Linked DNA regions of Homo sapiens: region 2 is linked to region 1. The links come from fine-mapping of genetic effects on gene expression. Tissue or cell type: whole blood. Region 1 holds a variant in brackets; the other region holds the start of a gene. All regions are shown on one strand. Distances are from middle to middle.

Region 1 (5,154 bases):
GTCTTTAAATTTTACTCACTAATTTTAACATTCACTGATAATTTCAATCTTTCTGAATTTGTTAGTGGGTATTGTACTGTAAATCAATGTTTTGTATTTACTAATTGGCATTCTGTAAATAAGAGCTTTTCCTTCCAATTATTTATTTGTTCATTTATTTATTGGTCTCTATATGGACTTGAACATTCTTAATTTATTCAATGGGATATAATTATTTACTATAATTATTTTGATGCTCAATATTTCTGTATTTGAACAGTGGGAGCTCCTTCAAGCTGGCTTGTGGGTCCTTTTGACATGAAGGTCTCTTAATCACTAAACCATTATATATATGTGGTATACATATACCTTAATAATCATACTATACCATCTACTGGGGCACTTTCAATATTTCTGAAGAGCCCAGACAAGTCTGATAATAATTACACAAAACAAAGAACAGAAGTTAAACTTTATAGATTCTTTTTCTGCCGGGCAACATGCCATCCATTTCTTGTGCTCTATTTTATTAAAGCATAACAAAAATCTTATTTTACTGATGAGGAAATCAAGGCACACACCAAAGGTCAAGTAATTGGCCAAGATAACTAAGCTAGCAAGCAGCTGAATCAAGATCTGAACACAGGTTTGTTTGATTTGAAAGCTCTTATTCATTACTGGACAACAAGAAAGGGAGAGAACATTTCATACAGTTGAAATTTTCTCTTTTTGCAGGTTCCAGGCCTGTGGTGTTACTGCAGCATGGCCTAGTTGGAGGTGCTAGCAACTGGATTTCCAACCTGCCCAACAATAGCCTGGGCTTCATTCTGGCAGATGCTGGTTTTGACGTGTGGATGGGGAACAGCAGGGGAAACGCCTGGTCTCGAAAACACAAGACACTCTCCATAGACCAAGATGAGTTCTGGGCTTTCAGGTATATGATAATCTCGAGAACAGAGGTAGACATGTCTGTCTTTCAAAAAAAATGGGTAAAAAATTACGGCTTCTAGTATTTGGTTGATTTATTTTGGTTGAGTCATCATTATCTTAACATGATATCCCCCAGTTTTCTTAATTAACTAGTGATTCCTTGGTTGAAGTAGTGAGGAATGCTGAGTTCCCCATGTAGAAGGTGGGTCTAGCTAATAGGGTGAGAATGGTGGTTGGTGTCAGGTGACTAAGATTGGAATGAGAGAAGTGTAGATCAATTTCCTCATGGGGAGGGGCGGGTAATAGTATAATAGTACTCCAGAAGGAAAAGAGACCAGGCAGCATTAAAAAAAAAGAAAGGAAACTATTAAGCCTAGTGTGTTAGTCCGTTTTCACACTGCTGTAAAGAACTGCCCGAGACTAAGTAATTTATAAAGTAAAGGGTTTTAATTTACTCACAGTTCAGCGGGGCTGGGGAGGCCTCAGGAAACTTACAATCATGGCAGAAGGTGAAGGGGAAGCAAGGCACCCTTTTCACAAGGCTGCAGCAAGAAGTGCTGAGCAAAAGGGGGAAGAGCCCTTTATAAAACAATCAGATCTTATGAGAACTCACTATCACGAGAACAGCACAGGGGAAACCACTCCCATGATTCAACTACCTCCACCTGGTCTCTCCCTTGACACATGGGGATTACAGGGATTATGGGGATTACAATTCAAGATGAGATTTGAGTGGGAACACAAGGCCTAACCATATCACCTAGGGACCATCGATTTGACTTACCTCTCATGTTCTTACAAAAGATTTTTAACTCTTTTATTTAAATTACCTATTGATGTTCAACTCACTTTTTATGGCTATCAGAGACGGACCACTTCAGCATCTTTACAACTATTCCTGTAAATGAATCTGCAGAGCCCTGTGCGGTTCTGCTTAACAGTAGAACAGGACACTTCCACTAGCAGTTGCGTTATGTGCTCAGTAAATATTCACTGAAGATAGTTATTGCTACGTGATAACATCTAGAGAAAACAGCAGTTTGCTGACAGCCTGTGACTCCAGAGGCACCCATGCTTCATAGGTTTGAAAGAAATCCATTCTGAGTGTTGTGAGGGACACGGTAACAAGCTGTCAGAGTTGACAACTCAAGGGCTTGTTTGTAAACCTGGTGT[C/G]GGGGGGAGCTTTTGTTTGTTTCTGATTATAATTTTTCATATAACTTTGTCTTTTCCCCTTGTAGTTATGATGAGATGGCTAGGTTTGACCTTCCTGCAGTGATAAACTTTATTTTGCAGAAAACGGGCCAGGAAAAGATCTATTATGTCGGCTATTCACAGGGCACCACCATGGGTAGGTTCAAAGAAAAGCAGGTTTGTATACTCGGAAGAAATGTGAGCATACGACACTAGCTATCCCTGAAATCTGTCACCTTGTGCTTCCTTCAGACCTGCTCTTTTCATCTTCAGAATCATGTAGTCCCCAGCAATGTGTCTAGCATATAGACATATGTGCTAGATATAGCATATCTCTGTGCTATATGTGTCTAGATATAGCATATCTCTCAATATAAATATTTTCTCAAAGCCAACATCGTGTTATTCAATTATTTATTTAACTCATTGAGCACCTACTACTTGAAAGCAAATATGCTGGTGTCATAAGGACCTTATAATTTTATAGGAGAGGTAAGATGCAGTCACATATATACTTATTGAAATATGTATTTAAAAGCAAAATATACATTTTATGAGTTCTAAAAATATTTCGTATTCATGTTGACATATTTCTTCTTTTGCAGGCTTTATTGCATTTTCCACCATGCCAGAGCTGGCTCAGAAAATCAAAATGTATTTTGCTTTAGCACCCATAGCCACTGTTAAGCATGCAAAAAGCCCCGGGACCAAATTTTTGTTGCTGCCAGATATGATGATCAAGGTATGAGACTCCTCAGAAAACTTCCTGTGTACGTAGAAAAATCTTCCAGCCCAATTTCCTAAAACATAAACTTTTAAATTACAGTCACATCTTTTCTGTCTGTCATGTCTATGTCACTTCATATTTTCACAGGGATTGTTTGGCAAAAAAGAATTTCTGTATCAGACCAGATTTCTCAGACAACTTGTTATTTACCTTTGTGGCCAGGTGATTCTTGATCAGATTTGTAGTAATATCATGTTACTTCTGGGTGGATTCAACACCAACAATATGAACATGGTAAGTGGGAGCCTAGTAAATTCCCAGCATCCCAGCATAAAGCTGGGAGTCATATGGCTCACCCCTGGAGGGAGAGCTAATGCCAGTGAAGACTCAGAGTAATGATATATTCTCAGTAACTCAGTTCTCTGCAAACTGTAAGGAAATAAGGGAAATGCTTCAGTATGGACTGAAACAAGGTTAACATAAGGGCATTGCTGATATTAAATCACAGATTATAGATGGAAGAGGTCTGAAAGCAGCTTTACTACAGTGAATTAAATTAAAAAGAGCAATTAGCACATGTTAGACAACAGAGACAACTGTCATGCATCATCCACCTCTACCCTGCACTGGGGTCCTGTAGGTTTGTAGTTTAAGTTCTTTGATGGAACATCAGGGACCTTCATTTTGGCTTAGGCTACCAGTTGGTATCACTGGGTGGGTTCCCTAGGAAGCATACTCTGAGATGGAGGTTAATGTGAACAATGATTTGGGTCCTGCTCTAGGGATAATACCTAGAGAAGGAAAAGAAACAGGACTAGGTAGGTGAAAAAGTCAAGTAGTGATGCAGTCTCAATAGGAGACTTAGTTGATCCTGCAGGGATTTTTGAAGATAGGATGACCCTTCAGAACCGTCTCAAGTTAGGAAGAGAGGGTTGGGTCTTTATACACCATATCAGTCAGTCATTTAATGTAGCCATACCAGTAACAGGGTAGCACTGGGCAATGTATCTGCCTACAATTGGTGCAATCCTCAAAGCAGACTGAGAGTGGAGGGCTGTTTGCCAGCAGCACTCCCAGCAGCTGGGGCAACATTTCCTTAATTCTGAATATTTTTTCTTCTTCTTTAAGATTAATAATTTGATTTATAGTAAGGATATGAAAAGTATATATTATGTATCAGGCTAATTTATTACCTATACCAAGCCTATGAGTGTTATTAATATCCCCACTTTGCAGATTAGTATACTAAGATTTAGTAGATTAAGTGACTCACTCAAATTCACCTAAAAATTAAACTGCAGAACTAGGATTTGAATACAGGCCCAATGCTAGAGCCCTCATCCTAAATATCACTAGTAAAATTTTTTTTAATTAGGGGCCAGATCTCTGATGAGAACCTATTCTCAGATGAAAAATACCGGTGTCTGGCAATACATTTAATGACATTTTATTTACGTGCATGTACATATTTTTGTTTCATAGATAATTGCTGATAACTTAATAATGTTACCATTTCTTAGTCTGACACCCTGGAGATTTGGTCTTGACAGGGTATACATCTTGTGAGTTTTTCTATGTCCCCCAGAATACTCATGGTTTGTTACAGAGCCGAGCAAGTGTATATGCTGCCCACACTCTTGCTGGAACATCTGTGCAAAATATTCTACACTGGAGCCAGGTAAGAATGTTGAATTTGCAGTCTTTGCTAAATGTCCTGTTATATTTTGTGTAGAATAGTCAAAGGACACCATTTAGATAAGCCAGGGATTATTTCACACTTATTCTAAGATGAAATGCAGTATCGTCGATGCTATTTTGATGGAGAATTTGATCTAGATCACTGAAACTTTTCAAGAAATGGGAAGAAAGGACAGAAGTAGCCTAAGAACTTCTTTAGATCTTAAAAGTATGAATTTAGATGATCCAAGTGAGACTTCTCTCTGTCTCTAGACACCTCAAAGATGTGGCTGGAGATAATTATGTTTCTACATCTTCTCTTCAGCTCCTCCAACAATACAGTCAAGTAGAAACAAAAATGCTAATGTGGGGTCTGTCAAAAGAGATATTCACAGGAGTCCTTCACACTGCAAACTTTACCTGCAATTACAGGAAACACACACCTCTGTGTGTCTATGTGGTGTGTGTGAAAGAGAGGGATGGGGGAAGGAGAGAGTTCTCTCTGTTGACAGGTAGGGAGAGACAGAGAGAGAGAGAGCAATTGTACCATCAAAACCAGAGAAGAATTATAAGTTCAATTAAATTTTGGTTGCTATCTTCCAGGATCACCACATTGCACAATTCCAGGGCACGATTCCCCATTGTAGCCC
Region 2 (5,154 bases), 37 kb after region 1:
CTAAAAGTGACTCTTACAAGATTGCTGTATTAAATGAGTTAATACATATATAAAGTGCTTAAAATAGGGCCTAATCTATAAGAAGCCCTAAATACATGTTTGTTGCTATTGTAAATATTATGAACAAATACCTTTGATAAGGGTTTAAATGAATCAGCCTTGTTTAAAAGTCCATCTTACGCAGTTGGAGTTACTTATTCAAAATTAGGGCCTCTCACTGAGCTCTAAGCTTATCCTCTAGTGCAGATTTCAGGACCAGCTCTCTGGGATCCTCCCTCATTCTCTCCTTCTTTCTTAAAAATATATATTGCATAACTATTAGCACTGCAAAGCTCTAAGGAAAAATGATAACCCTATGTCCCCAATCTAGAGGAGCTTCCCGCACTCAAATTGGGGGAAGTTTTTTTTTTTTTTTTGAATAGATTCTTCCAGGCAACATAGGACCAGGGATCCAGCAGGCTTTTTTCTTGTCCTTAATGAGTAGCTCACAATCTTTATCCTTAGGAAACACAGAGCAAATGATATATTACAAATGAGTAGGCTATGTTTAAATATTTAAGAGATTACTATTTAATTTTAAAGAGTCTCAAACTCTTTAAAACTATAGATGAAAGGTCCTACTTCCAACTTTCTACATCAGAATACCTGAGGATGAGACTAGGCTTTTTTTTTTCCTTTTTCCAAATCACATATAATTCCCACATGCAATCTGAAAAAGCAACCAAAATGCAGAATCTTAGGTCCCACCCAGGTCTACAAACTAAGAATCTGCATTTAAACAAGACCTTCAGAAGATCTGTATAGACATTAAAAACGGGAAAGCACTGGCCTGTGGCAGTCTTTCTTTCTCAGGATGGTGGTAAACAGATCACCCCTATGTCAGAACCACCTGGGATGCTCCTTTTAAAAAGTATACTTTTGTATCCTACCATAGACTGAGTGAAACAGACTCTCTGGGTTGGAGTCCCTTGAAACTGCATTTCAAACAAACTTCTCTCCCTGACACTTGGGCAGTCTAAAGTTTGAGAGTTACCAGAGTAGCATTTAAAAGCACTATATGTTTTGTCATTTTCATGTATATGATCCCTTCATGAGGCTAAAATCACTGAGCAAGACATACCTAGAGTTATAAACCAATCAAACACTGCATTTGCACACACGGAGAGATATATACACACATGGCATTAGAAATAACTGCAAATAAACTGTCTTTAATACTAGATCAAAACTATCCAAGAAGGTTCCCCTGAGCATCTGCAATGAAATGCAGATTAACCAGTTAATTGTGTCAGAGGAGAGAGAGAGTAAATTATGTATAATGACATCATTACACCTCTTGTACTCTTGTCTAAACATTCCTTGCTTGTACTTTCTTGAAACATCATTAAAAATCCATTTGATTCTAATAAGTTACTTCCAATACAAGTAAAAGTACCTCAGTATTTATCAGATGTGAAAAGAAAATAATCAAATCATCAAAATATGTTATTATTCCTCTTCTTCATAGTGATAGTCTTTACTAATATTTACTAAAGGTGAATCTCCCTTCAAATACCAAGCTGAAAGGCATTACTCTGGTCATGTGGTTCCATAAAAGAGGCAGTCAATCTTTTGGATATTTAGAAAATCCAATTGAGTACAATTTTCTCTTTTTCTCTGAGTGTTTGTCATGAGAAAAGCACAACTCAAACTCGATTTTGTCCAAATTATCCTTGCAAACATCCAGATACTATGAAATGTGTATTATATTCATCTCAACTTAGATCTAGCTAATATTTTAGAATTACAAAATACTTTGTCTTAAACTATTAAGAATATCAACAAGAATAACACATAGGACTTTATTTTTTCTGACTTAATGCTCCCCCAGGGAGTTGAACAGACAAAACAGAAATATATTAACAGGGATAGAAAATTGCATCTGAAAAGCATGAGTAACTTTTAACATCTTTGGAACTCTGCTTTCAGAAAGGTGATGTACCTCAGAGTATAGGATTCCCATGCTGGTCCTTCACAGGCTTACTTCACCTCTACAGCTCCTTGAATCTTCTGGAGGTATTTCTGATGAATATCAAAATCCTTCCTGGCTGAGAGGAAAGTCCCTAGAAGTCCAAGCTGGTGGCAAGCTCCAGGAGTGCTTTTCTAGCAAACACCTGTCAGTGCTTTTCCAGCAGCTCAGGCAGCAGCACACCTTCCAGAGAGCCCAGCCCAATGAAACAAAGGCACTGGTGTCATGTGTAACGACCCAAGCCTGTATCATCTAATGTTACAACCCTGAGGAGCCGGTTTCTGAGTCATATTTGCTCTGCCAGTGGTAACATGCAGGAAAGAAGGAAGCAAAGTTAAGGGAGGAAGAAAAGTTCTTACATTGGCAGGAAGGACTCACGGTTCAAACCAAGATACTGTATTTCAGACATTTCGTAATCAAAATCTGGTTTTCAGTGGCCATTGAGAAAGGCTAGAGACCAACAAACTTACTTGTGAGAGCCACACGTGTCTGGCAAAGAACTTGAAAAATAATCTTCAAAATTCTCAGCCTAACAAGTAACGCTTTTCCAGCTATTTATGCAGTTTTGTAAACTAATAAATTTACTAACATAATAAATCTTAAGTTGTTTTAAATATTCCAATACTATTCACACATTTAGCCAAATTACTTTATAATATTCAATTTAAAAATCATAAGTCTAAAATCAAATACTCTGTTATGCATTTTAAATTGCATCATCAATTTATTTATCAAACATGCTAGTATGCCCAATCTCTTAAATATTGTAAACATTTTATATGCTATATATGATATCATTCACACATTTTCCTTGAACTGAATACAATCACATCAAACTTTCCCAGAATTGAAACACTCGACCGTCCACACACCCATTATAACCATGGGACCAGCCCAAATGGGCCGTACTTTGTTGATAACAAATGTCAATTTACTCTGTAGATATAACAGAGCCAAAAACTGTAAGTCATTTAGCCCAGGCATGCACAATAAAAATGTTTTTGCCTCTAACAGAACCTAGAACAAATGATCCCTCCCCTGGGAACCAAGAAGACAAGGACATGACGGGAACCTAAATGCAGGACCTCTTTCAGAAGCTAGGGGCTCATTGGCCCAAAAGATCCAGGGCTGAAATCTGCCTCAACATACCTTACCTTTAGTGGTCAAATTTGAAGCCCTTCAATCAGTCCCTGCCAAACCAACATTCCTAAATCCTTTCCCTCACCCTCTAAGCCATACATTTTCTCAGATTCCAAACTGGGGAGGCAGATTTGAGCCCACCTCCTGTCTCCTTGCTGACCTGTCTTGCAATAAAGTTTTTCTTTCCTCAAAACCCAGTGTCCAGATATTGGCTTCTGTGAGCAGGGGGCAGCAAGCCTATTTGCTCAATAATATCATGGAAGAAATAGTTCAACCATCTCAAACCAATTGATGTGATTTTCCCAATCAGTTGAGGCTCCTTAGTGGCCAGAAACTAGTGACCAGGATACTAGGCCTGTGCTTATAAATATTCAGGGAAATTCTTCTTACTCCACTGGTGGATATACTGAGCTATTTTTATAATTATTTCAAAGATTTTATGTTTCACTATGCAGTTGACATCGAGGCCAGCCTCTCTGGAGTTTAAGAATTAGCTAATTCTTCCGTTGGAGGAGAGGGAAGTCTGCAATACCCACTAAAATTGCAGCTGACTTCCTCTTTGGCTTGGTTTGATTTTGTATTTCTGTAGACTCTTAAGACATTTAAGTGTCTTCCCATTGACTTAGAAAAACATTAATGGTATATCCATTGGGTACTTCACTCTGTTATGCAATATTTTGTAACCTCTGGTAGCCTCTTTTGTAACCTCTTTCAACTAATTTGTGTGGACAGAACTCTTCACTGTCATTGCTTCTCTCCTAAGGTTGCTGCTAGCTTTCTTCTTCAAGCTCTTTCCTCCCTGACTGAGCTCTAAATGTTTCTTTAACTTTCAATCAGGATCAAAACTCATTTTATTAGATTCTGCATCTCTTGACAACATCTGGTTCTAAAGGAACAGTACTCATTATAATTGCAAATGATGTAGGGTTAGCTCAAAAAACAAACCAATGAAAAAAGCAGTTGACTCATTGTTATTTGTAAAACACTTGGATTTAACTCTAGGCCATTGGGTCTCAACCAGGGGTTATCTCGCCCCCAGATAGACTGCAGATTTAGCAACGAAAAAGATAAGATGTTCAGTTAAATTTGAATTTCAGATAAATTTCTGAAATGTCATATGGGACATACATACACTAAAAAATTATGTTGCTTAATGGAGAACGTCGTTTTATTGGAAACTAAAGACATTTGGCAATGTCTGGAGACATTTTTGGTGGTCACAACTAGGAGTGGGAGCATGGTACTCTAATGTGGGGAGCAGAGGCCAGGGAAGCTGCTAATCATCCTACAGTGCACAGGACAGCCTCTCAGAGCAAAGAATTACCCAGCTCAGAAGAGTGCTAATGTAGAGAAACTCTAGTCTAAGCCAAAAGGAGAATTAAAGGTGAAGGAAGAGGACTTCGTAAACTATAGTGTCAAATTGGAATACGGAGGCATATTGTCAGAATGAAGTTGGATAAACAGATATATTTTTAAGTGTTTAGGGTTCTTCCTCTGGCAATTTTGAGCCTATAATTACAAAGACAGGTAAAGAAAAGAAGTTCCAGAAAACAGCTTTCACAGGTAAATGTCTTCTGTCAAGAAATAACACTGTCAAGAAGACAAATGTCTTCTGTCAAGAAATAAACCTAGTGTTTAATCTGAATTAAACACTAGGGACTTAAAATTAGTGGCATCCTTTGATCCTGGCTGTAAATGCAGCCAACCTCCACTGACCAGCAGCCAACTGTCTGTGAGAGATGAGTCTCTTGTAAGGTGTATCCCAAAGACTTCCCCCCAAGAGGGGTTCAGTAGAGCATAACAAAGAAGTATAGTCCACAGAAACTCAGTTTTACGCTGATATCTTAATCCTTCAACATTATCTAACATTGTCCAACATTGACATTAGCAGTGGAAGTTATCTGAGTCACACGGCACCAAAATATGTCACCAGCCAGCAGTGAATCTGTGTGGGTTTGCAGCAAACTCAATTCTTGCCTTCTCAGAAGAAAGAATTCAACTGGGGG

What was found. PIP is the estimated chance that this variant, and not a neighbour inherited with it, causes the effect.
Region 2: ANKRD22 starts here. The variant in region 1 is fine-mapped to the expression of ANKRD22 in whole blood (INTERVAL, PIP above 0.99). The same link has a PIP of 0.9 or more in unexposed skin.

Annotation. Positions count from the first base shown.
Region 1 is chr10:88,812,383-88,817,536 of GRCh38, forward strand. It overlaps LIPM (lipase family member M), which reads left to right. Exons shown (of 9, transcript NM_001128215.1): 3 at 715-913; 4 at 2,148-2,257; 5 at 2,706-2,842; 6 at 2,975-3,121; 7 at 4,434-4,505. Among named protein-coding and RNA genes, the nearest start is that of LIPM, 12 kb to the left of the region's middle. The variant C/G (reference allele first, on the strand shown) is at 2,083.
Region 2 is chr10:88,849,606-88,854,759 of GRCh38, forward strand. ANKRD22 (ankyrin repeat domain 22) reads right to left here and starts at 2,239. Exons shown (of 6, transcript NM_144590.3): 1 at 1,982-2,239. The coding sequence starts at 2,002.